Linked DNA regions of Homo sapiens. The protein of the gene in region 1 interacts with the protein of each later gene in a biochemical or structural test. Each region holds a gene or a part of one and is shown in the gene's direction. Other genes may lie near its edges.

Region 1 (4,430 bases):
GCCCAGCTAATTTTTGTATTTTTAGTGGAGACAGGGTTTTGCAATATTGACCAGGCTGGTCTCGAACTCCTGAGTGCCTCTCAAAGTGCTGGGATTACAGGCGTTAGCCACTGTGCCTGGCTCCAATTAAATGATTTGGAATAAATTTATAGAGCTATGCAACCACCACTATGATCCAGTTTCAGAACATTTTTGTGTCCCCCAAAATTCTCTTGATTCCCATTTGTAGTTAATTACAACTCCCTCCCTCAGCCCCAGGCATTCACTGATCTGCTTTTTTTTTTTTTTTTTTTTTTGAGACAGAGTCTGGCTTTTTCGCCCAGGCAGGAGTGGCACAATCTCAGCTCACTGCAACCTCCCCTTCCCGGGCTCAAGCAATTCTCCTGCCTCAGCCTCCCGAGTAGCTGGGACTACAGATGTGTACCACCACACCAAGCTAATTTTTGTAATTTTAGTAGAGACACGGTTTCACTGTGTTGGCCAGGCTGGTCTCAAACTCCTGACCTCAAGTGATCTGCCTGCCTCGGCCTCCCAGAGTGCTGGGATTACAGGTGTGAGCCACCGTGCCCGGCTGATCTGCTTTCTGTCTCTATAAATTTGTCTTTCCCAGACATTTCATGTAAATGGAATTAGTATGTAGTATCTTGTGTCTTATTTCTTTCACTTAGTATAATGTTTTTGGGGTTCTTCCAAGTTGTAGCATGTTTTAATATTTTGCTTATTGTTGTTGGATAATATTCCTTTGTATGGATATACCACATTTTGTTTTTCCATGTCACCATCCATTGATGAACATTTGAATTTGTTTTCTGTTTTTGGCTATTAAAATGCTGCTGTAAACAATTGTAAATAAGTCTTTGTGTGGGCTTTTTTTTTTTTTTCATTTTTCCTGGGTAGAAATCTAGGATCAAATTTGTTATCTTCTTTAAAGCATAGGGTTTCTCTGTCCTTTTTGTCCGAATGTCCTCTTTGAAATAAGGCATTGGATTTTTTTCCTCATTCTTTACCCCCCCCTTTTTTTTTTAATTTTCCCATTTTTCTTACCCAGGGAGCACAATACTTGGGAACCTGAGAAAAACTTGGATTGCCCTGAGCTAATTTCTGAATTTATGAAAAAGTATAAGAAGATGAAGGAGGGTGAAAATAATAAACCCAGGGAGAAGTCAGAAAGTAACAAGAGGAAATCCAATTTCTCAAACAGTGCCGATGACATCAAATCTAAAAAAAAGAGAGAGGTAAGCTTCCTTTCCCTTTTCCCCAAAAACTATTCTTTTGCCACCAAAATAATAATAATAAATAAAAGTATCATATTTTGGTTATTTCTATTGTAAGGATGGACCTATAAGGTAAATTGTTGAACAAAAGAGCTTCCAGGGAGGTATGTTGATTACAGCTCCCTCTCCTGGCTAAGTGAGAAATGTAATTTGTGGCCACTGGATTGTATTAAGGGGGCAAAATTAAATCTTTGTAAAATGTTAAACCACTCCTCTGCCTTCTCCATAAGTAGAAGACTTAGTTATCTTAGAGAAGGAGGATCATTGGTGAATTTTTTAAGAATAGAAAGGGGCTTTGAAATGTTTTGTTTTGTTTTGAGACAGAGTCTTGCTCTGTTGCCCAGGCTGGAGTGCAGTGGCTGGATCTCAGCTCACTGCAATCTCCAACTCCCGGCTTTAAGCGATTCTCATGCCTCAGTAGTAGCTGGGATTATAGGCACATGCCACCACACCTGGCTGATTTTTTTTTTTTTTTTTTTTTTTTTGAGACAGAGTCTTGCTGTCACCCAGGCTGGAGTGCAGTGGCACTATCTTGGCTCACTGCAAGCTCTGCCTCCCGGGTTCACGCCATTCTCCTCCCTCAGCCTCCCGAGTAGCTGGGACTACAGGCGCCTGCCACCACGCCCAGCTAATTTTTTTGTATTTTTAGTAGAGACGGGGTTTTACCATGTTAGCCAGGATGGTCTTGATAATTTTTGTATTTTTAATAGAGACGGGGTTTCGCCATGTTGGTCAGGCTGGTCTTGAACTCCTGACCTCGTGATCCGCCTGCCTTGGCCTCCCAAAGTGTTGAGATTATAGACGTGAGCCACCATGCCCAGCCGGGGCTTTGAAATGTTTACCATTTCACTTCCTTTTTTCTTTTTTTTTGGAGACAGAATATCGCTCTGTCACCCAGGCTTGAGTGCAATAGTGCGATCTTGGCTCACTGGAACTTCCACCTCCTGTGTTCAAGCAGTTCTCCTGCCTCAGCCTCCCAAGTAGCTGGGATTACAGGCACACGCCACCATGCCCAGCTAATTTTTTGTATCTTTAGTAGAGACGGGGTTTCACCATGTTGGCCGGGCTGGTCTCAAACCCCTTACCTTGTGATCCATCCACCTTGGCCTCCCAAAGTGTTGGGATTACAGGCGTGAGCCACCGCGCCCGGCCCTTTCTTTTTTTTTTTTTTTTTTTTTTTTTTTTTTTTTGAGACGGAGTCTCGCTCTGTCGCACAGGCCGGACTGCGGACTGCAGTGGCGCAATCTCGGCTCACTGCAAGCTCTGCCTCCCGGGTTCACGCCATTCTCCTGCCTCAGCCTCCCGAGTAGCTGGGACTACAGGCGCCCGCCACCGCGCCCGGCTAATTTTTTGTATTTTTAGTAGAGACGGGGTTTCACCTTGTTAGCCAGGATGGTCTCGATCTCCTGACCTCATGATCCACCCGCCTCGGCCTCCCAAAGTGCTGGGATTACAGGCGTGAGCCACCGCGCCCGGCCCCGGCCCTTTCTTTTGTTCCAGTGATAGCATTTGTTTTCAATCCTTGATAATCTTTTTTTTGCAGTGAAAATCATATAATATACAATTAAATATTTTATTTATTTATTTATTTTGAGACAGAGTCTTGTTCTGTCACTCAGGCTGGAGTGCATGGGCGTGATCTCGGCTTACTGCACCCTCACCTCCTGGGTTCAAGTGATTCTCCTGTTTCAGCCTTCTGAGTAGTTGGGATTACAGGCATGTGCCACCATAGCCAGATAATTTTTGTATTTTTATTTTTATTTTTTATTTATTTTTTTGAGACGGAGTTTCACTCTTGTTGCCCAGGCTGGAGTTCAATGGCATGATCTTGGCTCACTGCACCCTCCATCTCCTGGGTTCAAGTGATTCTTCTGCCTCAGCCTTCCAGAGTAGTTGGGATTACAGACATGCACCACCATGCCCAGCTAATTTTGTATTTTTAGTAGAGAGGGTGTTTCTCCATGTTGGTCAGGGTGGTCTTGAACTCCCTAACTCAGGTGATCCACCTGCCTTGGCCTCCCAAAGTGTTGGGATTACAGGTGTGAGCCACCATGCCTGGCTCAATTAACAATTTTAAAATGTACAGTTCAGTGGCATTTATATTCTCTTGATCTATTATTTCTACATACTTGGCGTACAAAATTAATTTTTGTCTTTTGAATCTTCTTCAGTTTGGGAAGTGTATTTATGAAATTTTGGTTTGATTTAGTTGCTTTAATCCTTCTGATCTTTAGCTCTCAAGTAAGTAGCATAAGCACTGTTATTGCCTCTCTCTCTTTTCATCTGTGTGTGGGCGCATAAATACACACACTCTACCACCTCCTCCCGCCCCCAGCTTCCATTCCTTTTATTTATTTCAAGGTTATGAAGCCTTTTGTGGTGAAGGATGTATCATACACTTTACATTTCATAAAAGCGTAAGTCTACTTCGGAATCTTCCAGCCTTCCAGAGTAGCTGCCACAATCATCCCTATGTATCTTCATTCTAATTAGATTTATACCTTTCTAGAGCATTAGTTCTCAATGCTACACATTATAATCACCTGGGGGGTACGTTAAAAAAAAAAAAAAATCTCCAGTGCCTAAGATGCACCCCAGACCAGTAAAATTAGAATTTTTTTTTTTTCTTTTTTTTTTGAGACATAGTCTCACTCTGTTGCCCAGGCTGGAGTGCAGTGGCACAATCTCACTGCAACCTCTGCCTCCTGGGTTCAAGCGATTCTCCTGCTTCACCCTCCCTAGTAGCTGGGACTACAGGCACATGCCACCATGCCTGGCTAATTTTTTGTATTTTTAGTAGAGATGGGGTTTCACCGTGTTAGCCAGAATGGTCTCAATCTCCTGACCTCGTTATCCGCCCATCTTGGCCTCTCAAAGTGCTGTGATTACAGGCATGAGCCACCACACCTGGCCTCTGTCATTTTTAAAAAGGAGCAGTCTGAATAATCTGGCTTGGAGCCACTGGCCAGTGCACAGAGTTTTGTTCCTAGGCCAGGTTCTGAAGCTGCCGACCTTGAAAACAACCCCCACATGTCCCTTACATCATAATGTTCATCTGGGACCCCTGATAGCATTCTTAGCAGTACTGGCTGCTGTCAGGTAGACAGCTGGAAAGATAGGTGATTGTATGTTTTAAAGGTATAGGAGGGGATTGTG
Region 2 (4,430 bases), on another chromosome or scaffold:
TTTCAAATAGCTAGAAGGATATTGAATATTCCTAACACAAAGAAAGAATGTGTTTGAGATGATGGATATGCTAATTACCTTGATTGGATTACTATATATTACATGTATTGCAACATCACTGTGTACCCCATAAATATGTACGATTATTACATGTCAATTTTTTTTTTTAAAGAGAATAAAGTACTCTGGTTAACTAAAGAGTATAAGCCTAAGGAGCTAGATTTTGTGAGATTGGTTTTTCTGTTTCATGTGACATCTGTTTTTCTGTTCCATGGCCTATTTGCTTTCTTTTCTGGAAAAAAATGCTATTTAGAGGTACCACTCTTTTTCTTTAACCTAGAACTTTGATTCTCCAACAGAGCTTATACTGGCTAATATTTCTACATCAGTGGTCTGTACTGAGGTTCTGGGTAGTTTAGAGATTCCCTTAGGCCAGACCTTCAGAGTGTTGACCTTGGTGGTGGTTCCGTATTCTAGAGTCTGGCCTGCCCGTATCCTGGGCCAGAGGCGATCTGGCTCATGCTAACCAAATCACCAGGGAGTAATGCACTTTTATTAATTTACATGAGAAGCGAAGCTGTCAGTTCACCATGTTGCCAGGCAGCTTAATTTCTTCTGTGGAAAATGCACATGAAATGCCAGATTATGAACAGAAATTAGATTGGTCCATGTGGAATTGAAACAAAAAGAGTTGGTGATCTTATTCCTTCAGCAAGCATATTTTGAACACTTCTCTCCATGGCGGGCACTGTGCTAGGTACTGGGGTGGCAAAGGTGAAAACACACAGCCTCTGTCTTTTAGAGGCTTTTAGTGTAGTGAAGAGTGACTAGACAAGTACAGTAACCCAATTACTGCAGCCTACTGGTGGGTGGTGATATCTGAGAAGTGCCCAGGTCTGAGCAGCAGGTCAGGAGGGCAGCAGAGGGTGTAGGGCCTATGTGGAGGTTGGAGGAGGGGTTGTCAGCAGAGGGGAGGGCCTGGGCATGGGGGCATGGGAGATGCTTTAGAGATCTGTTATCTCCAGAGCATGAGCGAGAGGCTGGCGTGACGGGAGAATGTGACAGCAGAAAGACCTAGCAGGCCAGGGGAACCAGATCTCTCTCCCCTTTAACAAAAAAATGTTGATTGTGGACCCGCCCATAGCACTTTTTACATTTGCCTGTAAACTAGTACTTTATTTGAATACTTTAAACACAGAAGCTCCTTCTCCCTTTCCCCGTCTGTATCCTTATAGGAAGCGTTGTTGACGACCATGGACATCATCCACGATGGATTTGGATTCATGCTGGCTTTTGGAGACTTGGTGTGGGTTCCCTTTATTTACAGCTTCCAAGCCTTTTATTTAGTCAGTCATCCAAATGAAGTGTCTTGGCCAATGGCTTCTCTAATTATTGTTCTGAAACGTGAGTATTAATTTTAGTCTCAGTTTAATTTATTAAATATTATGTACTGAGGCTTTTATGCCCTGCTGTCTACATACTTGAAACATGCCATTTTGAATGGCCAGCATTAGCTCAGTTTGAAGCCATTTATCATGAGTAATAAAAAATCTGCATTTTGCAAAGAGAATGGATGGTTCGTACTTGGGTTCTCAGTAGTACTTGAAACAGATTATTTTAAACCATCTTGCTTTTAAATTTAATAAATTTAAGTTGTTTTAATTCGTTTTGGTAACCATACGTCTTTTCTCTTGAGTGCCTGCTTTTTCTGGTAGGCATCTTATAAAGTAAGAAGATTTGTCTTGCCTTCATAGAGCTCACATTCTAACAGGAGAAATAAGACATTCCTGCCTTGCTGTGAGGTGTGTGAGTGAGCACTAAGAGGGGCTTAGATGACGGGTGTTAAAGATAGAGAGAACTTCTCTCTGGGGAGCGTTAGTGTGAACTTATCGGAGGATATGGTGTTCGATTGGAGTTTTAGAGGGGAAAATGGGATGGGGAGATCGAAAAGTCAGGCACTGGGAACAGCTCAGCAAGGGTGTGTGGTGGGGAAGTGTGAGATGAGGTTGGGAAAGACTGAGAAGTCCAGTTTGGCTGCAGCTGCGGTCCACCAGGGTCAGTCATGGATTTTACTTCAGGATGAATTTTCATTGTTCTTACACTGTTCACTAAACACTTATACTAGAGGTTGGGCAGGGAAAATTAGCAGTGAACTGCAAATACAGATAGTTTTGCTACACAAGTTAGTATCTGTGGTAGAAGAAGTTCAAACCATTGGTTAAAATTAAGATTTAGTTTCACCAGTGGTTTGGATGTCCATGTCATCCATTTTATTATTCAAGACAGTGTATTTTATAGTTCAGCTAAAAATGGGGAATGTCTTAGTTTGTTTTGTGCTGCTCGAACAGAATAGCTGAGACTAGGTAATTTGTCATGAAATTTATTTGGCTCATGGTTCTGGAGGCCAGGAAGTCAAAGAGCATGGTGCTGGAATCTGGCAAGACCCCTTCTGCTGCAGCATCCCAGGGTGGAAGGTGGAAGGACAAGAGAGAGTGAGGGAGGGCAAGAGAGAGTGAGGAAGAGCAAGAGGGGCTGAACATACTTTTATAACAAACCCACTCGAGATACTGAGCCCACTCCTGTGATAGCCACATTAATCTGTCCATGAGGGCAGAACCCTCATGACCTAATCATCTCTTAAAGGTGCTACCTCTCCACACTGTTGCATTGAGGATTACGTTTCCAACACGTGAACTTTGGAGAACACATTCAAACCAAAGCAGGAAGTAAAGTTATTCTCTTACTAGTTTATTGAGGATCGACTATATAATAGTTAAATGTCAGTGATAGATTGATTTTTGACATTCTGAAATTTGGATAAAATTAGGAACTTATAGACTTAAAGTGGGATTCAGCATGTATTTAAAGTGCAGGATGTTTTGGTGCTGATTCTAAGCTAGTGTTTGATAATAAAATGTTTGTGCCATGGCCAGTAGGTATAACTAACAGATGATATAGCTTGTAATTTTGATTACACTGAACTCTAGTATTGATTTTATTGTAATGTAGGCTATCTTAGATTTTATCTCTTTCATGGATGTAACTATATTTGTTTTGCCTTCAGAGCGTTTCCTAGGTGGATGATTAAAGTAGTGTGATAGATTTCGGACGGGTTACCATCTTTTTACATAGTGGGATTTAGAGGTTTTGAGTTGTTCTTAAGAATCAGGCCAGGTGCGGTGGCTCATGCCTGTAATCCCAGCACTTTGGGAGGCTGAAGCAGGAGGATCTCTTGAGCCTAGGAGTCTGCTTTGGAAATTTCCTCAGAGCATAGAAATCATTTTTAAGAGAAATTACAGATGCTATTAAGCATTAGAGTATAACTAAGTTATTAACATAGGAAAATATTTTAAAATTGCAGTTTGTGGTTATGTAATCTTCCGAGGTGCAAATTCTCAGAAAAATGCATTCCGGAAAAATCCCAGTGATCCAAAGCTTGCACGTAAGTATTGATTTATGTTTATATTATATATATTACATGAAGGTTTTATTTTTCTTTTTGTCTCGACATCATTAAAAATGTACTTTTATTTTTATATAGATTTAAAAACCATTCATACTTCAACGGGAAAAAATCTTCTAGTTTCTGGATGGTGGGGCTTTGTTCGCCACCCCAATTACTTGGGTGATCTCATCATGGCCTTGGCGTGGTCCCTCCCATGTGGTAAGCATTTCAGAAGAGTGCTAGTTTGACCCTTTTAGCCGCCAGAAAGATGTGTGTGTGTGTCCTTTGTGTGGGACAGTGTGGCCAAGGTGGGTGTGAGTCTTTTTGTCGCCCTTTTCTACTGTGAGGTTGGCCTCTGTAGAAGCTCCTCTGGCTTCTGAGGGGAATTGGGAATTCACAGAGCCTGAAGTTTTACTTTAAGCCTAAAAGCACTATTTTAAGTTTTCAGCTGTGCCTGATAGCTTTTTTCTAAGTAGAATATATAGAAATTAATTCAGCTTCTTAATTCATGATTCAGTGTACATAGATTGGGAAAAACTTTGGTTTTTAAGAAGAGAAAGAGATTCTGTTTTTCTTTTTGTGTGTCTGGCCTCGTGGGGAGCTGGGAAAGCAGGGGAGCAGGGAGAGCTGTGGGAGCTGGAGGTGCTTGGGGAGCTGGGGTGTCAGGGGGAGCTGGAGGTACTGGTGGAGCCAGGGGAGCTGGGGGAACTGGGGGAGCAGGGGGATCTTGGGAAGCTGGGGGAGCTGGGGGAACTGGGGGAGCAGGGGGATCCAGGGGAGCTGGTGGAGGTGGAGGAGCTGGCCCGTGCCTGCTGCCTGTTTGGTGGCCCAGCCTGTGGTGGAAGACAGCAGTTTTTCTTCTTTGCTGGGGGAAGAAGGGCGAGAAATGAAGAGATGTGTATTAACTATGAGGACAGATGTTTTGATTGTGATGGATTGTTAGAATGGATTCATCAGTCTTTGAGTAGCTTCTAATTTAGATACG
Region 3 (4,430 bases), on another chromosome or scaffold:
ACATGCATGTTAACAATTTCTCTTATGATAGATGGTTCAAATTAACTTCCAGAAAAGTGCATTAACGTTTCCTTTGAAGGGCTCTGGTCTGAGCCTCCGAGAACAATCCCCGCTTTTTATTATTGTAACCTGTAAGAGGGAAACATATAAACACCCAGGACAGCAGGTAATGGGGAGAAATAGAGACAAAGCCAGAGAGGAGGCTGGTGGCAAGTAGTGCTGCTTAGACTGGGTCTTGGGCCCTGCCCACTGTGAGTAGGGTTAGCTGCAGTTTTACCACCATTATTGGCAGTATTGTTTTTAATTCCTCCATTCGGAGAACAAATAAACCATCCTAATAAATCTATCCTAGAACCAGGCTTTCCAATGGCCAAATTAAAACCATTCTTGAACAGGGATAGCAAAATCCCTTTCATAAGGCCTTGTTGAACAGTAAGCAATGGTATAATCTATCAATATTTCTTGGCTTTCATGTGTGAAGAATTGTATTTACATTGTATTAAAATGACTCCTAAATTTGCACAATATTGTAATGTAGCAAATGTAGTATTAATATCGATCTGAACAGCAGATAATTTATTTAGACAAGAGCATCTCATTTGTATGCAGGGTGGCCAGAGCAATGGACTTGGACTGCCCCCCTTTTACTTTCAGTGCAAATGCAGGTCTGCTAGTGAGAGAGGGAGTTATTCTTTCCAAGAGGATAAAGTGCAAACCTTAAAACAAATGGAAGATTTATGGAATAGCCTCCTCCGTATTTGAATGCATTTTATCTTAATAAGTCTTCTTGATGGAAACGTGTTTTTCAAAAGTGACAAAGAGCCTGGGAAGCAGCAACCAGGCTGCCTCAGCTCTGGCAGGCCTGGGGCCTGGCTGGCTCTCTACTACCAGGCTCTTTAGCCAAATTCATCAGGAAGCAAGCCAGTGTCAGGGAAGCTGGGGTTTGAAAATCTCATCCAGCGAGGTGTCTTGAAGCAGAAATGTGACTTGGAACTGGACAGACGTTTTCTCAGGAAAGGTCTCTCCTCTCTTTTCCTTACACCCCCTAAGGTTCTTTGAACCCCCTTGACTTTGCTAATCTCATGCCCTTTCCCAGAGAGAGGTGAGGACTGTGCAGGCTGCAGGGAAACACTGTGGAATTATTCATGCTTTCCTTTTAACTTTCCATACTAAAACATTCCTGTGAAAAGTGTTCATTTAAAAAGTTTTCCAAGGAAGTTTCTTGAATCAAGTCTTCAAGGTGCAAAGAGTGCCTAGAAATGAACAATAACATTATTTTGTTGGAAAATTGCAAGCAGAATATCTGAAAATGGAAATAGAGCTGTCAGTAGTAATTCACCTCCCCCCTCCCATGCAACACATTTCCACTTTTGACTAAACTTGTTTTGATTGCTAGCCAGAAGGGAATTCATGGGAAGCCTTCTCAAAGTCATCCAACTTTTAAGCAAACTTTGAATGATGGAAAAGACAGTTTTAGACATATTGTCCAATGTGGTTTGCTTTGGCTAAGTATTTGAAGCTGGCACGGGGGTCCCCCGTGGTGGTTTTCACATTTGGCCTCCGGATGGTATGTTTAATCCTTAATATTCTGGACTGCATCCAAGGACTAGGTCATGACCTGAACTTACTTTTTAAAAAATTCATTAGTTCATACACCTAAATATTCCTTCAAATAAATGAGACTTTCTCTGAAAGGAGCCATCTAGTTAACATAAATACAATAAATCCATTTTCAGCACAATAATAACTTTGATTTCTAGTTATGGCAGCTGATTACATCTATATTTCCTGAACACTAAACTCTTCTGAATGCACAACATGAAATACATTCTCTGCACTACAAAGGCTAGGCCAGGAGGGCCTGAGCAGTAATGGTTATTTATTTACATAATTTCTTTTCCATACACTGTAGAAGAAATATTGAGAGTTCCCACATTGACACTACCGTATAAAAAGTGTGACATGGATTTTGCACATTCTGCCTCATTTTCTTATCTGGGGTATAACTCATGGAGCATAAATATATACTGTATTACACCCCCTGGTCACCTAGCTTTGTCACCACAACCCCCTAGTTGATCTGGGAGCTCATACCTTCTGTCCACAGTTGAGGGAATCCTGTTGCAAAGGGGTGAATGAATTTCCAGACTGGGAAGCCAGGCCAGAACCAGGGCTCCTGCCGGAGGGAAGCCACAGAGCTAGCTGGCTGGTACCTGGCAGGCAGGCCCAGCTACAGGCATTCACCTCCAAAGGAGGGAAGAAATGGAAGCAACCAGCACAGGACCCAGGCAGGCCTTTCCTGGGCTTCTTGTCTCTCTTGGAGCGGCCTGTTTGGGAGTTGGGAAGTGACCTTGTACTCCAGGGACCCTAATCATAAATGTCAGATAGATATTTTACTGAGCTGAGGGGATGCCAGATGGATCTTAAAAAAAAAAAATCTGCCGGGATACCAAGGGGCCCTTTTCACATTGCATTGTCTAGGGCTGAGAATGATCCATAAGCATGCAGGCAGATAATGCATGTAAAGCAAGCTCTATGTAATTATGGGTCTGGGTCTGAGTGAGGGTCATTCATCAGGGCCAGGTTAGCAAGCAGGGCCAAACTCACGGTCCCCTCTCTAAGCAGCAAAGCCCCACAGAGCTCTTGCTGCCCTGGCCCTAATAGCCATAAAGTCTCATTTGGCTTCCCATATCAGACCAGTGTGGATATACCCAACTGGCTGGCTGGAGTAATTAGACATCTGAGAGGAACCTAGTCTGTATCTGAGGTCAAAGGGGACTTGCCTCAGAAGTTCTTGAATTATCACTAGTTTTATTTGTATTTTTGCTCGAGGCCATAGCCTTGTAGATGAAGGTGTTAGAATGCTTTGTAAATCCCAGTTCTTGAAATATAAGGTCATAAAGCTCAGAAACTCAGCAGACACAGGTTTCACTTTGAATCATTTGTTGTGTCTTCTTAGGGTCACACTTGCCCATTCAAAATTATACAATGTCATTTTGGGGGCATTGCCATGCATCAATTTTTTCCCAGATCTATATATTAGCAAATTCTGCCTTTGATCTCTAGTCAACCTCCTGACTGGCTAAGGGCTCCTCTGTGATCTTACTGGTTTTTTTTTAATATTTATTATTAATATAAGAAACAAGTGGGTATTTGAACTAGGAGAGGATGCCTTTACTCCATTCCTCTTATTCCATCTTTCCCTCCCTATGCTTGCCTCTAGTTAGTTGATATAATATAATCTGCTGTCCTGAAATACTTTTAGAGGACCAAGAAGGGCCTTGGTTGACATGAACTAAGCACACAGATTTTGAGGTGCTGTCATTGTGCGGAGGTGCCTTTTTCTCCCTTGGTCCTGCCACCAAAAGCTTATCTCCCCCCAAGTCCCCCCTCAACTCCCCACCACCCACATCCCCCCCTACCCCCCCAGTTCTGAAGCAGCAGCAGCTGCTGCCTGTAGCCTAGCTTTGTGTCTGATTGCTGAAGATGTCGCCTTTCTGCAGCCTGGAGTAACTGAGTCATATTCTTCCTGATTATTATACAGCTTACAGAGATGTGACCAATTTTCAATTACTTGATCTAAGGTATAGATAGAAGTGTACACCCTCACCAAGGATTTGCTGCAGAGTCCTTTCTTGCATAGATAACGGATCTGAAATCCTATATTGCTAAAGCGTGGGCTTCATCTGATTCCAGGCACTGCCAGCCCATGATTCCTTACCCCCTCCCATGTGTTTGTTCACTACACAATCTAGGTTCTCCTGGAGGTTTCTGGTTGGGGTGGTTTGGGTTTGAGAGGGGACTCCAGGAATCCTTTAAGAACTGCCTTCAGGCTGCATATTTCCTAAGGGGTACTGAACACCCCCAGATCAGAGGCAAATGGGGCAAAAGTTAATGAGCACGGCCAGAAAGATGCTCCCTTGCAGGCCGAGGACAGGTTGTTAAGCGCAGCAAACATGGTTCCAGCATTGTACATTATTTAATCCAAAGGTGAAAGAGGAAAAACAAAGGGACTAGAGAGGTTTCTGCCTCTGCATGTGTGTGCCTCTCTCTCCAGCTCCCCTAGGCTTGGTGGGGGTTTGATTTATTTTTATTTGTATTGTATTGGGGGCGGGGGAGGAGGGAATGAAGAAGGGGATGGAGAGGTATAGGAGGGTGAATTTTTCTTTTCTCTTTTACTTCTTTTTTATTTTCCATTTTCTCCTTAAAAAAAATTGATGGCTTATTTTGCCTTTGCTATTTGTCAGCCTAACCGTGTGCTCCCTTTCCCTGTCTCTCCCTCCTGTGGCTGCTTGGGCAGACGCCTGTGGCCTGTCGGATGCGGCCCACATCGAGAGCCTGCAGGAGAAGTCGCAGTGCGCACTGGAGGAGTACGTGAGGAGCCAGTACCCCAACCAGCCCAGCCGTTTTGGCAAACTGCTGCTGCGACT
Region 4 (4,430 bases), on another chromosome or scaffold:
GGATGTGCCCCAGCTGTCTTCACTCACAGACGGCTTGTGTTTGAGTCTCTGTCCCACAGTGAGGGGCTAAGGATGCAGCCCAGCTGTGTTCACTCACTGACAGCTGGTGTTTGACCTGCTGTGTGGTCTGAAACCTGAACGCACCTCAACATCCAGACTTCCAGCTTCTCTCGAAAAATCTCATCTGGTGACACTCGCCCACGTGGCTGCTGGGGATGGGATCCCGTCCGCATCTGCACCGTGGCCCCACAGCCCCCTCTTGCCTCCTGCGGGCCTGCTGCACACCATTTCCTCCTGACTGCCCAGCTGCTGTGACCTAGTGGGCTTTCTGCCGATGCTCACCGTGTCTGTCGGGAGGCCATGCAAAGCAGATGTTCACAGCTTTACATTTTTTTGTTTCTTTAAGATGGAGTCTCACTCTATCACTCAGGCTGGAGTGCAGTGGCGCGATTTCGGCTCACTGCAACCTCTGCCTCCCAGGCTCAAGTGATAGTCCTGCCCCAGCCTCCCTAGTAGCTGGGATTATAGGTGCGTGCCACCATGCCCAGCCAAGATTTGTATTTTTAGTAGAGACAGAGTTTTACCATGTTGGCCAGGCTGGTCTCAAACTCCTGACTTCAGATGATCCGCCCACCTCAGCCTCCCAAAGTGCTGGGATTAGAGGTGTGAGCCACTGCGCCTGGCCTACTTTGTTTTTAATAAGGCACACACTCTGCTTTTCTATCTGATGAACTCTTTTTTTTTTCTCCTTTTGAGGATGATGATGACGACATGGGAGAGGATGAAGATGAGGACGATGGTTTCTTTGTGCCCCATGGGTACCTGTCTGAGGACGAAGGTGTGACAGAGGTGAGGGAGTGAAGGGGGAGGTCACCGGCTCAGCAAAAGTTCATTTCTGGACTGGTGCTCAGTGGCCTGACCTGGGAGGGTGACGGGGGTCCCAGCCCAACCATACGAGATTTGGACTGCATTCCAAGCACGCAAGCTCACTCGTGGGAACAGCTGGGCCTGAACTTGGTATTACCTGGGAGGGTGGCAGACGTAGGAGGAGCTTGCAAGCGAGGGGAGCCATAGGAGCAGACACCCTGGTGAGGGAGCGTGGCCATGGTCTGTGGGTTAGAAGGCTGGAAACCACCCGAGCTGACATACAGTCAGCATGCAGCAAGACATGTGCATTGTAAGTGTTGAGTTTGATGACGTAACAATCAAGTGAATGTGGGCAACCACCGCCCGAAATAAAACAGAACTTCCCTATCTCTCCAGAAGATTGCCCACGTCTCTGCAGGCGAACCTGCCTGCCACCCCTTTCCAGATTCCATAAGGTTGTGGAACTGTCTTTTTTTTTTTTTTTCTTGAGACGGATTCTCATTCTGTTACCCAGGCTGGAGTGCAATGGCCCGGTGTTGGCTCACTGCAACCTCTGCCTCCCGGGTTCAAGCAATTCTCCTGCCTCGGCCTCCCAAGTAGCTGGGACTACAGGCGTGTGCCACCACACCTGGCTAATTTTTGTATTTTTAGTAGAGACGGGAGTTCATTATGTTGGCCAGGCTGGTCTTGAACTCCTGACCTCCAGTGATCCACCCGCCTCGGCCTCCCAGAGTGCTGGGATTACAGGCATGAGCCACCGAGCCCGGCAGGAACTTGCTTTCAAGCAAGTTGTTTTTGGTCCTGTTTTGTTTTGAAGGCCTGTCGTTTGGGAAGTGGGGATTTGGTGGGACTGTCTCATGGTTGGACTGGAGGCCTAGGCATTCCTTGTGCATATCTGACCACCGAGGCCTGAACTGTCAGTCAGAGAGTGGTCTCAGGCCCTGCATGTGTCTGCCAGATGCCTGGGCCATGTGGGTAGACACCCAACCCTGTTAAACGGCTCCACGATCACACATTCACCAGAAAATTCAGAGGGGTGTTAAAAGAGGCCTCATGGGTGAGTTCAGAAATATCTGTGACGCTCCCAAAGGAGACCAGGTGTGAATTATTCCATCTGGAAGAGGGGCAGCCAGCGCATGGTGTGCTCTGCCCTGGCCCTGACACTGTGGGAAGTTTTGTGCCCCTGTCCTTTCCTCTTGCTCCCCAGCTGGCTGGGGACTGGTTCCTCAAAAGAGTGCCCGGGCATAGGGGAGCAAGAACCCCAAATAAACTTCTGCTTTCTAAACCACAAGGAGTGTGCCGACCCTGAGAACCATAAGGTCCGCCAGAAACTGAAGGCCAAGGAGTGGGACGAGTTCCTGGCTAAGGGGAAGCGCTTTCGCGTCCTGCAACCTGTGAAGATCGGCTGCGTGTGGGCGGCTGACAGAGACTGCGCAGGCGATGACCTGAAGGTACTGCAGCAGTTCGCAGCCTGCTTCCTGGAGACCCTGCCGGCCCAGGAGGAGCAGACGCCCAAGGCCTCCAAGCGGGAGAGGAGAGACGAGCAGAGTGAGTGTGGGCGGGGCCAGGCCACCCACCTGTTCCTGGGCCCAGCTAATTCCAGGGCTGAGGGCAAGAGTCACAGGCTAGTGGGTCCGTGATGCAAATGTTCTTTCCACAAATAACAGAGGCCAGCCCTTTTCCTGTACATGTCCGTACGTTCAATGATGTCCCTAGCAGCAGGACGAGGCAGGTCCCTTAATTGGCTTGTTTTATCAACCAGGACACAGGCACAGAGAGTGCTGGAGTGGGGGCTGTGCTTTCTCAAAAGCCAGGGAGGGGCCGGGCACAGTGCCTCATGCCTGTGATGCCAGCACTTTGGGAGGCCAAGGTGGGAGGATCGCTTGAGCCTAGTGCTTCGACACCAGCCTGGGCAACATGGCAAAACCCCATCTCTGCAGAAAATGCAAAATTACCTGGGTGTGGTATCACGCACCTGTGATCCCAGCTACTCAAGAGGCTGAGGTGGGAGGATTGCTTGAGCCTAGGAGTTTCAGACCACAGTGAGCCATGATCCTGCCACTGCACTCCAGCCTGGGTGACAGAGCAAGACCCTGTCTAAAAAAAAAAAAAAACTCAAAAAACTGGGGAGGGACCATGGCACACAAGGAGAGCAGGGCAGTCATTTGGGTAGGAACAGCAGGCATTTGAAGTCAGCCCTGGCAACACACGTGCCCGGCCAAGGCTCACTTCTGGGCAGGTGCGTAGGTGCTACCCTGTCTTACACCCGCCCTCATGAGGCCACCTATCCCCGAAGCTGGCCATGCCCCAAGCCTCGGTGGCAATGAGCTTGTGTATGTGTTTTGTTTTTTGGCCTGTGGTGATGGGTGGCTCCCCAAGCCTCATGCCCACCCATGTTCCCTCCTGCCAGTCCTGGCCCAGCTGCTGCCGCTCCTGCACGGCAATGTGAACGGGAGCAAGGTCATCATCCGGGAGTTCCAGGAGCACTGCCGCCGGGGACTGCTCAGCAACCACACCGGCAGCCCGCGGAGCCCCTCCACCACCTACCTGCACACCCCCACCCCCAGCGAGGATGCCGCCATCCCCTCTAAGTCCCGGCTCAAGCGGCTCATTTCCGAGAACTCAGTGTATGAGAAGCGGCCTGACTTCAGGATGTGCTGGTACGTGCACCCGCAGGTGCTACAGAGCTTCCAGCAGGAGCACCTGCCCGTGCCGTGCCAGTGGAGCTATGTGACATCGGTGCCCTCGGCCCCCAAAGAGGACAGTGGCAGCGTCCCCTCCACGGGGCCCAGCCAGGGCACTCCCATCTCGCTGAAGAGGAAGTCAGCGGGCAGCATGTGCATCACCCAATTCATGAAGAAGCGCAGGCACGACGGCCAGGTGAGGTGGGGTGGGCAGGTGGGGGCCTCTGCAGGGCTTTTCTTTTTTTGTTTGTTTTTTGTTGTTTTGTTTTTTTTTCGAGATGGAGTCCTGCTCTGTCACCCAGGCTGGAGTGCAGTGGCGCAATCTCAGCTCACTGCAACCTCCTCCCTCCTGGGTTCAAGTGATTCTCCTGCCTTAGCCTCCTGAGTAGCTGGGATTACAGGTGTACGCCACCATGCCTGGCTAATTTTTGTATTTTTAGTAGAGACGGGGTTTCACCATGTTGGTCAGGCTGGTCTCGAACTCCTGACCTCATGATCCGTCTGCCTTGTCCTCCCAAAGTGCTGGGATTACAGGCGTGAGCCACCTCGCCTGGTGTTTTTGTGTTTTTTAAATAACCTTACTCTTAGAGCAGTTTTAGGGTCACAGCAAAATCGATTGGAAGGTACAGAAAGTTCCCATACACCTCCTTCCCCAAAGCCAAGCCAAGCCACCCAACATCACCTCCCAGAATGGTGCATTGGTTACAATCAGTGCACCTCAGGCCAGGCACTGTGGCTCACGCCTGTAGTCTCAGCACTTTGGGAGGCTGAGGCGGGAGGATCACTTGAGCCCGGGAGTTGGAGACCAGCCTGGGCAACATGGCAAAACCCCATCTCTAAGAAAAAATTTTTAGATTAGCCAAGCGGTGGCATGCACCT
Region 5 (4,090 bases), on another chromosome or scaffold:
AATCATAAGGTTCCACATGTTGCTCTGCAAGCACTAACTGTGAGTACAAGGCATGTTATTATTTGACGCAAATTTTAAATGTGTTTTTAATTACAGTAAGTTAATATTTCAATATTCATATATTTTTATTTCAATTAATAGCTTCTTGGGGCTTGTGTGGCAAACTGTGGAAAGATATTTCATTTAGAAGTATGTTCCCGTGATTTTGCAACAGAAGTACGTGCTGTGATTAAAAATAAGGTAAATTTTAAAAACAGAAGAACTTTAAGTCATTAAAAAAATGTAGATTGTGTGTCATTATAACTATATGTGGCATTACTAAAGTATTATAAATGAAGTCATTTTTAGATCATTGAAATGAAATAAACTGTTCTGAAATTTGATTTTTTAATGTGTAGCACCAAAAACTATTCTCCCCAAAGTATATATACTGTAAATAATAGCAAATCCTTTTTGAGGGCTAGTAAGTAGTCATTACTTTAAGCATTTTACATATACTGTCTTGTTGAATGCTCTTAACTACCCTTGGAGCATTAGATTCTTGGAAGTTAGATTCCCTTATCATTCTTATTTTATAAATGCAAAAACTGAGACTTAGAAGTAACTTGTCCAAGGTCATGCAGCTGGTAACTGGAATAGCCATGATTTACATCCAGGTTTCTCTGGCTCCATTCTCCGAAACATGGAGGAAATAATCTCTGAATATAAAAGATCTGTTGTCATTATAGTAAGACTTAGGAATTGGTGTTAAAAACAGTCATTTTGTATGAAACAACTATATCACAACATGTAAATAGGCATCTATCAATTACTCAACTAGGCTAGAAATTTCAGGACTTTTGTTGATGTTCATATAATTAAAGAGAATTTTGATGGTAATTCTCCTTGTTAAATAATTTAAGTACTTATTTTAACCGTAGATTTTTGTTTATTTTCCTTTCCTTTTCCTTAAAAGGCACATCCTAAAGTATGTGAAAAACTGAAATCTTTAATGGTGGAGTGGTCAGAAGAATTTCAGAAGGACCCTCAGTTTAGTCTGATATCTGCAACTATTAAATCTATGAAAGAAGAAGGAATTACTTTTCCTCCAGCAGGTTCTCAGGTGAGAGATTTATTCAGACCCATGGTTGACCCTATAATATTTTGAAGGTATGTATGTTATGTAAAGACTAGGCAAGGTATGTCTAGATTATCATTTTCCACCTTTACTTCCCAAATGACTCTCTAGCATAGTGCCTTCCTTACGTTTAGTAGACATTCTAGTTTTTATGTGTATTTCTTCCACATATCAGAACCTTGTGAAGTTAATCAGACATAGTGTATTTAATGTTCCTCTAAGTCTACAGTCATGCAAAAGGCATAGGTATATGACATACCCCTTATATTCAAGAAATTTGTAGCAAATTTGAATGATAGCTTTATACATGTGAAAAATAACTAATTTAGATTGTAAGTGACAAATACAGGATGAGGGGAATAGACTGCATACTGTCTATCTTAATACCAAAGAGAGAAAGAGGTGACTACAGATTGGAATGGTGAAGAAGGTAAAGAGGTAGAATTTTGAGACTTGAATGTATTAATATTTTGTTAGAGAGAAGTGAAGAAGTCATATCAGGAGGTAAGTGAAATGAACAAATTCATGGAATTGAGAGGCTCAAGACTTGTTTGTTCAAGAGTGAATATGCCTAGAGTGAATGCTTCACATACAAGATGGATGGAAATGTAAGACTAGAAATTTATTTGCTGGGAGAAGGGATAGCTTTAGTAGAACTGGGGTGTGGAGGCAGGGATGTTGACTCATGGAGTGGGCTGGTTTTTTTAGGTCTAGGGGAGAAAAATACTATTCCTTGGGTTTTGCTCTCAGTACCTTATTCCTTCCCATTAATATTAAGATATGGGCTAGGGAAAGAGACGATGAGAAGTACTATATTTTCTTTTATTTTAAATCATAGATTAAAGAGAAAAAAAGATTTTTTTTTTTTTTTTTTTGAGATGGAGTTTTGCTCTTGTTGCCCAGGCTGGAGTGCAGTGGCACAACCTCAGCTCACTGCAATCTCTGTCTCCCGGGTTTAAGCAATTCTCCTGCCTCCGCCTTTAGAGTAGCTGGGATTGCAGGTGCCTACCACCATGCCCGGCTAATTTTTTGTATTTTTAGTAGAGACGGGGTTTCACCATGTTGACCAGGCTGGTCTCAAACTTCTGACCTCAGGTGATCCACCTGCCTCGACCTCTCAAAGTGCTGGGATTACAGGCATGAGCCACCACGCTGGCCGAAAAAAGATTCTTTATAGCTGACCAGACCTAAGGGTACAAGGTAACGTTTTGAGATAAGAGTCTTATAAGTAATAAAAAGGAAACATTTTCCTGTTCTGTCCTTTCTGCATATTTTTCTGAAAAATCTATGTAAAGAACCGGTTGATGGATCAGTCCTGGATACCTGTCTTACATGCTGTTTATTAAATTCAAGCATGACCTTCCTTACTTCTCTGCTATGTCTGGCAGACCACTGCCACCCAGCCACAATAACTAGTAAAAGGACTTCACACATATTCCTAGAACTGCACCTCTTGTCTCTGTCCCCATTCCTCTCTCTTCAGTGATGATCATGACTTCTTGCTGGCACTCCTCGTGTAGCTGTACTCCTATAGCAGAGCTCCTCTCACTAAGAGACCTTGGACAATTGAGATCGGGAATACAATCAGAAAAGAGTCTTTTTTAAATTCTATTAATATTTAAGTACTTTCTGTATGCCAAGTTCTGTGTTACATTTATGCAAAATCTAAGCCAGTTTGATCCCTGTGTGAGTTTATAATGTTTTCTTGAAAAATCTGATGTTTTATTTTAGTATTTGAAAACAATTATTTAAAATTATTATAAAGAACTTCACTTTTAGACCAGTGATGGTGGCTCATGCCTGTAATCTTAGCACTTTGGTAGGCTGAGACAGGAGAATCACTTGAGGCTAAGAGTTGCAGATCAGCCCAGGAAACATAGTGAGACCCTGTCTCTACAAAAAATAAAAATTAGCCGGTTGTGGATGCATACACCTCTAGTTCCGGCTTCCCAGGAGGCTGAGGCAAGAGGATCACTTGAGCCCAGGAGTTGGAGGTTACAGTGAGCTATGACTGTGCCATGCACTGCAACCTGGCTGACAGAATGAGACCCTGTCTCAAAAAAGAACTTCACTTTTAAATGAAACTCAGTTATATCAGTATTTTTTAAAATTTACCATCTGCAAGTAATTATGGAGCTTGTGTTTTGTTTGAAAAGATAGTTGTGTTCATTTTACTCATACATTTACAGACTGTCTCAGCTGCTGCCAAGAATGGTACGTCATCGAACAAAAACAAAGAGGATGAAGACATAGCTAAAGGTAAATGATCAAGCACATGTAATTTAGTGTTGCTTAAAATATCTTTGCCAGGGCTGGGCGCGGTGGCTCACGCCTGTAATCCCAGCACTTTGGGAGGCCGAAGTGGGCAGATCATGAGGTCAAGAGATCGAGACCAGCCTGACCAACAAGGTGAAACCCCATCTCTACTAAAAGTACAAAAATTAGCTGGGCGTGGTGGCGGGCGCCTGTAGTCCCAACTACTCGGGAGGCTGAGGCAGGAGAATCGCTTGAACCCAGGAGGCGGAGGTTGCAGTGAGCCAAGATGGCACCACTGTGCTCCAGCCTGGCGATGGAGTGAGACTCCATCTCAAAAAATATATATATGTATTTGCCAGAACATTTTTTTGAAATAAAAATGATAATAAAACTAGCATACTTTTATTTTTACCTCAAATCTAAAAACTAGTAGCATCCAAAAAGTAAGGAAAACAAATGACATGCTATCAAATGAATTTAATTCATTATCTTTTTTCAGTAATATGTATTTGATGTGCTACCTTTGGAGAGATTACATTTCACCTTTTTTTAATGCCAAAGTTATGAGTCAAGCAGAGAAATATGTTCATGGCTTATCCTATATGGAAAGCTACCCATATTATAATGTCACAATCTGTTTGCTATAAAAATAATTGCTGCTGTGTATGACAGACCGTGATAATAAAGAATGAGCAAAAACTTTATTTTAAAAATGTC
Region 6 (5,151 bases), on another chromosome or scaffold:
AGGTCAGGAGTTCGAGACCAGCCTGACCAACATGGTGAAACCCCGTATCTACTAAAAAAAAAAAAAAAAAAAAAAATTAGCCGGGCATGGTAGTGCATGCCTGTAATCCCAACTATTTGGGAGGCTGAAGCAGGAAAATCGCTTGAACCTGGGCGGCGGAGGTTGCAGTGAGCCGACATCGCACCATTCCACTCCAGCCTGGGCAACAAGAGGGAACTCTGTCTAAAAAAAAATTAGCCAGGGGTGGTAGTGCATGCCTGTAATCCCAGCTACTTGGGAGGCTGAGGCAGGAGAATCGTTTGAACCTGGGAAGCAGAGGCTGCAGTGAGCCGAGATCACTCCACTGCACTCTAGCCTGGGCGAGAGAGCGATACTCTGTCTCTGTCTCTCTCTCTCTCTCTCTCTCTCTCTCTCTCTCTCTCTCTCTCTCTCTCTCACACACACACACACACACACACACACACACACCAAAACACCAAAAACAGCACACCAAAACAGCACCTACTCTGTGGCATGCATTGTTTTAAGTGCCCACGATCTATAGCTGTACAGTGGAGCGCATGTCTGACAGTGATCCTATATGTGTAGACACACAAGCGCCTACATTGTGTTACCGGACAGTAACATGCTGCACAGCTGTGTGGCCCAGGAGCCGCCGGCCACCTTACAGCCCAGGTGCCAGCAGCCCTGCCACGTAGGTGTGAGTGATGTTGCTCTAGGATGCTGGCAGGATGACGACATCGCCTGAGCACGCACTGCCCAGATGGTATCAGTGTCGTTAAGGGAAGAATGGCTGTGGCGAAACAAACAAACAAGCAAACAAAGACCGCCTGTTCTGAGTGTGGAGCTTATTATTCTCGGCGTAATTATGATGAATTGTTAGTTACGTTTGCCTCTAGGATTGAGGTAGGGGGGGTGATCCCAATTAGGGGGTGCCCCAGGGGAGCGCCCCAGGAGTCAGGGCTTGTCTCAAAAGTCCCCACTCCTCCCTCAGCCTCCCCTCCCTCCATCCGACCCCGTTCATATCGCGGGAAGGTCCCACAGAGTGCGTGTGGATACTCCCAAAACGCAACGGTGTAAACGGGGAGGGAGGGAGAGAGACTGAGGAGCCCTTTGTAGCCAGGCAGAGCTGTCAATAAAGTTTCGTCGCCTTGGTAACCGCAGGCCTCGCGGGGCGGGAGGGGAGAGGGATGGCGGTGCGCGCGCATTCACCGCCTCCCTCCCGCCGGGTCTGGCTTTCTCCCTCCTGTGGCCGAAGCTTTCCTCGGAGAAATAGAAGAGGGAGGCCGCGACTCTATGGTGATGGACGGAGGCCTTACCCAATGGAAAGAGGAGCTGTCCCAAGGCCAGGCAATCATATACGACTACTGGAGCTGGCAGAGCCCGCCCTCTTTCCACTTGGACCTGAATAACCCGACCCAAACCGAGTTTCGCCCGGAGAGACTGCGCTTTCGGCCAATGAGTGCGTCGATTTCGAGCCCCAGTGTGAGCGAAGGCGGGACAAGTCTCCATGGCAGCGACTAAAGGACAGCGATGTGAACCACTGACAACAGTTCGCGGCGTTTGACGGCGGCGGGGGCGTGGCGGGGTTTTATCTGTGTATTGACGAGAGCCGGGCGCGGAGGGAAAGAGTGGGGCTTGGCCAATGGGAGCGCCGTGAGCTTCGTAGCAACGGAGGAGTGGCGGTGGCTGTGGCCAATAGAAAGCCTCAGTGGCCTTGGCGGGGCTGGCCCGGAGAGCAGATGGGAGGTGCGGCGACAGTGTTTGACGAGAGCCGAAGGAGGCTGTGGGAGGTGTTGGCGGCGGCGGCGCGGGCGCCTGAGGAGGAGGAGGAGAAGCGGGTGAGGGGCGGCGCGGGGCCCGATCTCTGAGCCCCTTCACGGCCCCAGCCCCGCGCCGCCTTGGCTCCCCAGTCGCCCCCTGCCCCGACTGCCCCCCACCCCGCCCGGCCCCTCCTCGTGTCCAGGCGCCCACGTCTCCCGGCCCCTCGCCGGGCCTCGGGCTCCGCGGCACTGCAGCCTCCTTCCTGTGCTTCCTCACCCGGGCCCTGACCCCCTTCTTACGTCCACGGCCCTCCCTGCATCCTCAGGGCCTCTCCCTGACCTCTTGTCACTCTCCAGGCCTCTCCCTGCACCCCCCAGGGCCTTTCCCTGACCTCACCCTCCAGGCCTCTCCCTGCACCCCCAGGTCTCTCCCTGCACCCTCAGGGCCTCTCCCTGACCCTTCTCTCACCCCCGGGACCTCCCTGCACTCCCAGGGCCAATCCCCGACCTCCTCTCACCCTCCAGGCCTCCTTCTGGACCCTCTAGGTCTTTCTGTGCCCTAGAACCTCTCCCTGACCCCTCTGTCCCTCTCCTGGCACTCCCTGGACCCTGAGGTCGGCCTCTGACCCTCCAGGTCCCTTGCCCTGGGCTCTCACCGCCTACCCAGGCGCCTCCCTGGGTCCCCAGGCCCTTCCCTAGGGTCTCCCTTTCCTGGATCCCCCAGGACCCCACCAAGCCCGTTTGGATCCCTGGGCCCCTGTCCGCCCTCTCAGGCCCTTCACTCACTGGACACCCAGGATCTTCTCCGCCATCCCTGGACCGCCCCCCGACCCAGGTCTCCCGTCTGGCTCCTCCCTGAGTCCCTAGGCCATTCCCCGCTCTCTGTCCTCCCTGGCACCCCCATCCCTTCCTCACACCCCTCTGAGCGCCCCCAGGCCCGGCTGCAGCCTTCTCCCTCCCACAGCCCCCTGCCGTGCCCACCGCTGTGCGTTTCTCTCCTTGCCCCCAGCCCCCTCTCCAGCTTCCCCGCTGTCCCTGGCGTCCTCCTGCAGCGCCCCCTCTTTCTCTCCCGCAGCCTCGCAGTCTGTCCCCGACCCCTCCACAGCCGTCTCTGCAGCTCCCGCTCCTTGCCCTGCCCCATCTCCTCCTCTCCTGGGCGCGGATGAGCCTCGAGCGCCGTGGTGCGGGGACGAGGCTGGCCCTCCGTCCGGGTTAGGGGTTTGGGTGGTTTTCTTCATCTCTCCGTTCTCTCCTGGCTCCGCTTTAAAAAAATGTTTTTGTAAATATTGACCTGTGCTGCCTCCCCATAGTCTTCCTTTGCTCCCCTCCCCACCCCCGCTTTTGTCCTCTGAGCCCCCCTCCCCTGGAATCCTTGGAGAGGGAGCAGGTGCTGGGATCCCTCCCCTGCCCTCCCTCCCGTCACCCGCCTCCAGGCTGCCTGGGGCTTCACCCGGAGCCTCCTGACCACTCCCGAAGGCTGCCGGGGAGGCAGGGGGCGGAGACCGAGGCTGGGTCGAGGTGGGGGTGGAGGGCGGGACCTCGGGCTGGCGGGAAGCTTTGACTTTTCCTCCTTGAGGGCTAGAGGTGAAGCGGCTCCCCACGGTGCTAAGCCTTTAGGGTGATCCCGGCTGCCAATCAGTCAGCCTTCTCTGGGCCCAAAGAGATGTGTGTGTGTAGGGGGTCTCTGTACATATGGGCAGGGGCATCTGCGTGTGTCAGTCTGAGTGTGCATGGGTGTGCATGTGGGGGTTGTGTGTTTAGGGGGGATCTGTGTCTGCGCTGCGGAGCAAGAGCAAGAGCTAAGGCGATGGCTGACATGGCTCTGGGCTTTCCCTACTCTCAGAAGTACTTGTTGCATTCCATCTTCGCCAGCGGCCTGGTGAAGTCAGCACTGCTTTTCTCCCCATTTTGCAGATGAGATCGTGGGGCTCACCAGCGTCCCCCATGGCTTCTGAGTAGCGTGGGAGTGGAGTCAGCACCAAGCCAGGCTCCCCGCGCCTGCCTTGCCCTCACCTGCTCCTGCTCTCTGCCAGAGGCAGCATGGTCCGCAGGGCACCATGGGGCCCGACAGAGTGACAGCACGAGAACTGTGCGAGAACGACGACCTGGCCACCAGCCTCGTCCTGGACCCCTACCTCGGTTTCCGCACCCATAAGATGAACGTCAGGTGAGGTGGCCTGGGGGCGAGGGTGGGCCCGAGGGGTCAGGACCCCTCCCCTTGCACCGCTGCCGCCCCTCGGCCCTCTCCTTAGCCTGGTCCTCCCCTCAGCTCCAAGTGGGGGTTGGGGCCGGGGCCCGGGAAGGCCCTGGGACCCAGGCATGCCCTCTCCCCCAGCCCTGTGCCCCCCCTGCGGCGACAGCAGCACCTGCGCTCAGCGCTGGAAACTTTCCTGAGGCAGCGGGACCTGGAGGCTGCGTACCGGGCCCTGACGCTGGGAGGCTGGACGGCCCGCTACTTCCAGAGCCGGGGCCCGCGGCAGGAGGCTGCCCTCAAGACCCACGTGAGGGCGCCCTCCCCTCCCCCGCCCTCACCGCGTGTCCTCCCCGCTCACCGGGCCTGGTCCCGCCTGGCAGACGCTCTAGAGTCCCTCAGCGCAGCCCCTGGGGCCCCCTGACTTCCTAGCCCTTGGGACCATCTGAGGCAAGGCTCAGAGAATCCTAGGAGAGGAGAGTTGGGGGGGCCCTCTGAGATGTAGTCCAACCTCTTCATTTGACGGATGAGGAAACTGAGGCCCCGAGAGGGAACATGAGGCCCCCAAGACCACACAGTGAGTCAGTGGCATGGCAGGCCTAGAGTCCTGGAGAGAGAGGGCCAAAGATGCCCCTGCCCCGCCTCCTCACCCCCACCCTCACCCTCACCAGGTCTATCGCTACCTCCGTGCCTTCCTGCCGGAAAGTGGCTTTACCATCCTGCCCTGCACGCGCTACTCCATGGAGACCAACGGGGCCAAGATCGTGTCCACTCGTGCTTGGTAAGAGGGCAGGACTCCCTGCAGGTATCCTTGGAGGAGACAGAGCTCAGAGGGGACAAGAGAGACCCTCTGTTCATGGACTGGCCAACCGGGGAAAAGCGAGGGGCCTGGTCCTCCGGGCATCCTAGGAAGGTGGTGGGGCTAATCCCGGAAGACCTTTGTGGCTACCGTGGTGCCGCTGGAGCAGGAGACCCCGGATGTGACCCCAGGGTTCCTGGGGCTTCCAGGAAAGAACTAGGCTTCTGGTCAGGGCCGTGCTGTCCTTACCTCCTTGTGACCTGAGCCCCCACCACATGTTAAACACCCCTGAGTGCAATGAGGAGCCCCTGCCCCTGCCCCTGCGGGGTTCACAGTCTGGTGAGGAGGTGGGGGGCAGACAAGTCAACATGCAGTCACTGGTCCCAGCTGGTACATGC
Region 7 (3,338 bases), on another chromosome or scaffold:
CCTAAAGGTTTAACTCAGAACTGAAATATACAGCTTCTTATAAAGAGTCTAGAGGTAGTTTTAAAAACTATTATATGGAAGAGATGCAGTTCTGAGTGAAACTGTATTAGAGCTGATATTTGGGTTTGTTTCATTCGTTTGTTTTTGGTTGTTAATTTTGCTTTTAGTAAATGGTTCAGTCCTCTACAGAGAGAGGATTGACAAAAATGTTATAGTGAAAATTGAAGTCCAACAGAGCTTAAAGGAAAAAATATATATATTATATATAAAGAAAATAAACCTGTGCTTATCTAAACATGGATGCCTGACTGGCTGTTTCAGAGAATACCTTCTGCCTCCTGAGACACAGCCTCTCCATGAGGTGGTGTACTTCAGTGCTGCCCATGCCCTTCGTGAGCATTTAAATGCTGCTCCGCGAATTGCCCTCCATACTGCACTCAACAATCCTTACTATTATCTCAAGGTAAGATGAACATTTAGTTTTCTGATAGTTTAGCTCAGACTCTGGGCGTCATTGTCATAAAAATATACTAAATTTGCAGTTATGTTTTAATGAGCAGAGAGTCGGCAATTCAGGGTTGCACGTCTCATATATTTTTAAAAATTCTTTAGACTGTAGAAAAAAATTTCTAACCCCATAAAGATAGCAATTAGTAGTCAACTGTTGCTGCCAGTTTTTGACCATGTGTAATCTTTGCCCTTCACATGCTAAAGTCAGATCATAGGCACAAAGACTTGAGAGTATAATGTTACCACTCTTGTGAAAATAAAAGAAATGTTTCCTGTAAACATAACAGCAGACAGGGATTAAACAATATGGCCTAATAAATTACTGAAAGACCGAAATGGTTGTTTCTAGTGGGAAAGAGAAATACTTTGGGACTTCATCTTGGATTTTAAAACAAAGAAAGGTCTATTCTGAGAGCATCTGCAGAGCTGAGTGTAGAGGATAACCAGCAGTCTGCCACTAAAACTCCTGGGGCAGCACACTTCAGCTGCCCTTGCTAAAGTCCAGACACAGTTATCAACTCCTGGAAGCTCTTTAAACAATAGTTCAAGACAGCTCACAATTTTAGAAACTAGCTTTCTTATGACCGGGCAAAATGATCACTTTAAACATTCAATAAGCTGTATATACATGAAAGAGTGGTAAGTTAAATACCCAGAAATCTTGCCACAATAAATACTTAAGAAACAACTCCGTAAGACCTATGAAGAGCATTCCAGTGTACTGGCTTCTCATTGCAAAACGGCACACAAACATGCAGAGTATTACAAGAATATTGAGTAGGACGATATAAGTCAATGGTTTTCAGTGATGGTGAAAACCACTGAATAATTTCATACTTAACCAAAAAATCAGTTAATTTTAATATATAAACCATAAATTAAAACTTACAAAATCTGTCTTCTTCTTGGCTGGTGGGTCACAGAAGAGAACTGGTATGATTTCAGTTGTCTTTGGGTGGGATATATTATAATATACCCCTGATATTATAATATCAGAGCAGGGTGTGTATGTAAGACTTTGTGTTTCTCAGTAAAAGCCATGGATTTCAAATAGGTTGAAGAAACACTGATGGTTTCTATAGGGCTTAAGGTCTGCAGTGTTGACAACGTAGTCTTTTCTTTAAAAGAAATTTATACCCCTGGTAAGTGGTATTAGTATTTACTAATACAGTATAGTAATTGTTAGAATTCAGCTAATTATAAGTGTTGGAAGTACCATTTTATTAAGTATTCCTAAAGATTTCCATAAACTTTTTACATTAAGTGCATTCAGGTCTGAGAAATTAGTAATTTATGGATTGAAATGAAAAATATGCTTATCTTCTAATCCTGGGAATATTCTTCTAGTGACTAAGAACTAGAGGGGTTATGACCAAGACATAAACCTAAACAAGAACTAGCTAACTATTGAATAGACTCACTCACTAAATAAGGGAAACCAAGATTCCATTTACTGGTTTACTCAGTTTAGGTTGGGGGCTTCATTAATGTCTGATTTTATTCCTAATAATTTATAAAAGTTAGTCATCTTAGTTTACTGTTAATTGTTAGAATGAAGCACTGAAAAGCGAAGAAGGCTGCATTCCGAATATCGCCCCAGACATCTGCATAGCATACAAACTGCACCTAGAGTGTAGCAGGCTCATCAACCTCGTGGACTGGTCAGAGGTAGGTTGTAGGGAAAAGAACAAGCTAGATATTTTTCTAACCATCCATGATGACTTTCTCAGAATAGTTTTATACTTTTAGTGCTTTGGAATTTATCTTGTGTTTAATGCCTTGTCTTTTATTTGGAAAGCATAAATCATTTCAAACTTTAAAAGTTCCTTAGGAAGTGGTAGTTCAACAGTCCCCACTCCCAATCCCCTGCCCTCTGATCCTGAATTCCTTAACCAAGCCAATTCTGTGTTCATGCTAGGTCAAAATAAGTATGTGATCTAACCCAATAGTTAGCATTAAGCAAAAACTAAACAATTTAGGTCAGTTCTGTTATTTCACAAAATAAAGTATATTATTAACTAGCATTTCTCTTCTTGCTTAAAAGAAAAAAAATTGAAGTAACTACACAACAGATTTAGCAATCAGGAAGTATAAGGAATACTTGGCAAGGCAATAAACAACTGTTGTTATTCTTTAAAATAAACAACTATTCTTTCTGTCTTCAGAATAGTATTACAAAGATCTTAACTCTATTAAAGGCCTTACAGATGTCTTGTCACCATTAAAAAATATCCATAATTGGCTGCTTCCAAGAAAAATAGATATTTTCCTGGAGTAAGATTAGTAGAGGAAACAGGGCTTTCTTGTTCTTTTACCTTTGACTAGCTTCGTTTCTTTTCTCTGCATACTCTTAGTTCTCTGAAACAAGATTATTCAGGAACCATTACTTTATCTTTTAATATATAAGTGGTTTAAAGTGATCATCAGTGTAGTTTTGACAATCTTAAATTTGATATAATGAAGAATATGTGCCAGCTATCAACAGCCATTAAAAGAAGTATAGTAAAAGATGTTTGGCAACTGTAGACATTTTTATTTTCTTCTGTCTTGTCTATTCAAAAGGCTTTTGCAACAGTTGTGACAGCTGCTGAAAAAATGGATGCAAATTCTGCAACCTCAGAAGAAATGAATGAAATTATCCAGTATCCTTTTAAAACCATTTCTACAATGTCCAACTACACATAAAATATAAGTTTATAATTTCTCCAGGTCTACACTAGATATTTATAAAGGCGTACTCCAAACAACCGTATTACTTGTTAATATTAACCATATGGTGCTAGAATAACTGAAATTTCTGAATCTTTATTTTGAATTTAATCCAAAAT

Evidence for each region.
Region 2: the proteins of CBX5 (region 1) and LBR form a complex in vitro, tested with the Homo sapiens proteins (2 studies listed by BioGRID, with this or other methods).
Region 3: the proteins of CBX5 (region 1) and NR2F1 form a complex in vitro, tested with the Homo sapiens proteins (one study listed by BioGRID).
Region 4: the proteins of CBX5 (region 1) and CHAF1A form a complex in vitro, tested with the Homo sapiens proteins (2 studies listed by BioGRID).
Region 5: the proteins of CBX5 (region 1) and STAM2 interact in a test that uses a peptide from one of them, tested with the Homo sapiens proteins (one study listed by BioGRID).
Region 6: the proteins of CBX5 (region 1) and KMT5C form a complex in vitro, tested with the Homo sapiens proteins (one study listed by BioGRID).
Region 7: the proteins of CBX5 (region 1) and ORC3 form a complex in vitro, tested with the Homo sapiens proteins (one study listed by IntAct).

What each region holds. Positions count from the first base shown.
Region 1 is NC_000012.12:54,248,846-54,253,275, reverse strand, and holds part of CBX5 (chromobox protein homolog 5), read left to right. Parts: intron 1-1,048; coding exon 1,049-1,235; intron 1,236-4,430. UniProt on the Homo sapiens protein: Component of heterochromatin that recognizes and binds histone H3 tails methylated at 'Lys-9' (H3K9me), leading to epigenetic repression. In contrast, it is excluded from chromatin when 'Tyr-41' of histone H3 is phosphorylated (H3Y41ph).
Region 2 is NC_000001.11:225,403,638-225,408,067, reverse strand, and holds part of LBR (delta(14)-sterol reductase LBR), read left to right. Parts: intron 1-1,235; coding exon 1,236-1,404; intron 1,405-3,361; coding exon 3,362-3,442; intron 3,443-3,541; coding exon 3,542-3,664; intron 3,665-4,430. UniProt on the Homo sapiens protein: Catalyzes the reduction of the C14-unsaturated bond of lanosterol, as part of the metabolic pathway leading to cholesterol biosynthesis.
Region 3 is NC_000005.10:93,589,262-93,593,691, forward strand, and holds part of NR2F1 (COUP transcription factor 1), read left to right. Parts: intron 1-4,300; coding exon 4,301-4,430. UniProt on the Homo sapiens protein: Coup (chicken ovalbumin upstream promoter) transcription factor binds to the ovalbumin promoter and, in conjunction with another protein (S300-II) stimulates initiation of transcription. Binds to both direct repeats and palindromes of the 5'-AGGTCA-3' motif.
Region 4 is NC_000019.10:4,429,793-4,434,222, forward strand, and holds part of CHAF1A (chromatin assembly factor 1 subunit A), read left to right. Parts: intron 1-756; coding exon 757-849; intron 850-2,159; coding exon 2,160-2,415; intron 2,416-3,277; coding exon 3,278-3,747; intron 3,748-4,430. UniProt on the Homo sapiens protein: Acts as a component of the histone chaperone complex chromatin assembly factor 1 (CAF-1), which assembles histone octamers onto DNA during replication and repair.
Region 5 is NC_000002.12:152,144,174-152,148,263, reverse strand, and holds part of STAM2 (signal transducing adapter molecule 2), read left to right. Parts: coding exon 1-39; intron 40-141; coding exon 142-240; intron 241-955; coding exon 956-1,102; intron 1,103-3,306; coding exon 3,307-3,376; intron 3,377-4,090.
Region 6 is NC_000019.10:55,338,117-55,343,267, forward strand, and holds the start of KMT5C (histone-lysine N-methyltransferase KMT5C), read left to right. Parts: upstream 1-1,759; 5' UTR 1,760-1,841; exon of another isoform or gene 1,842-2,598; intron 2,599-3,677; 5' UTR 3,678-3,820; coding exon 3,821-3,930; intron 3,931-4,098; coding exon 4,099-4,264; intron 4,265-4,276; exon of another isoform or gene 4,277-4,531; intron 4,532-4,625; coding exon 4,626-4,735; intron 4,736-4,738; exon of another isoform or gene 4,739-5,151. UniProt on the Homo sapiens protein: Histone methyltransferase that specifically methylates monomethylated 'Lys-20' (H4K20me1) and dimethylated 'Lys-20' (H4K20me2) of histone H4 to produce respectively dimethylated 'Lys-20' (H4K20me2) and trimethylated 'Lys-20' (H4K20me3) and thus regulates transcription and maintenance of genome integrity.
Region 7 is NC_000006.12:87,662,682-87,666,019, forward strand, and holds part of ORC3 (origin recognition complex subunit 3), read left to right. Parts: intron 1-321; coding exon 322-463; intron 464-2,061; coding exon 2,062-2,178; intron 2,179-3,072; coding exon 3,073-3,152; intron 3,153-3,338. UniProt on the Homo sapiens protein: Component of the origin recognition complex (ORC) that binds origins of replication. DNA-binding is ATP-dependent. The specific DNA sequences that define origins of replication have not been identified yet.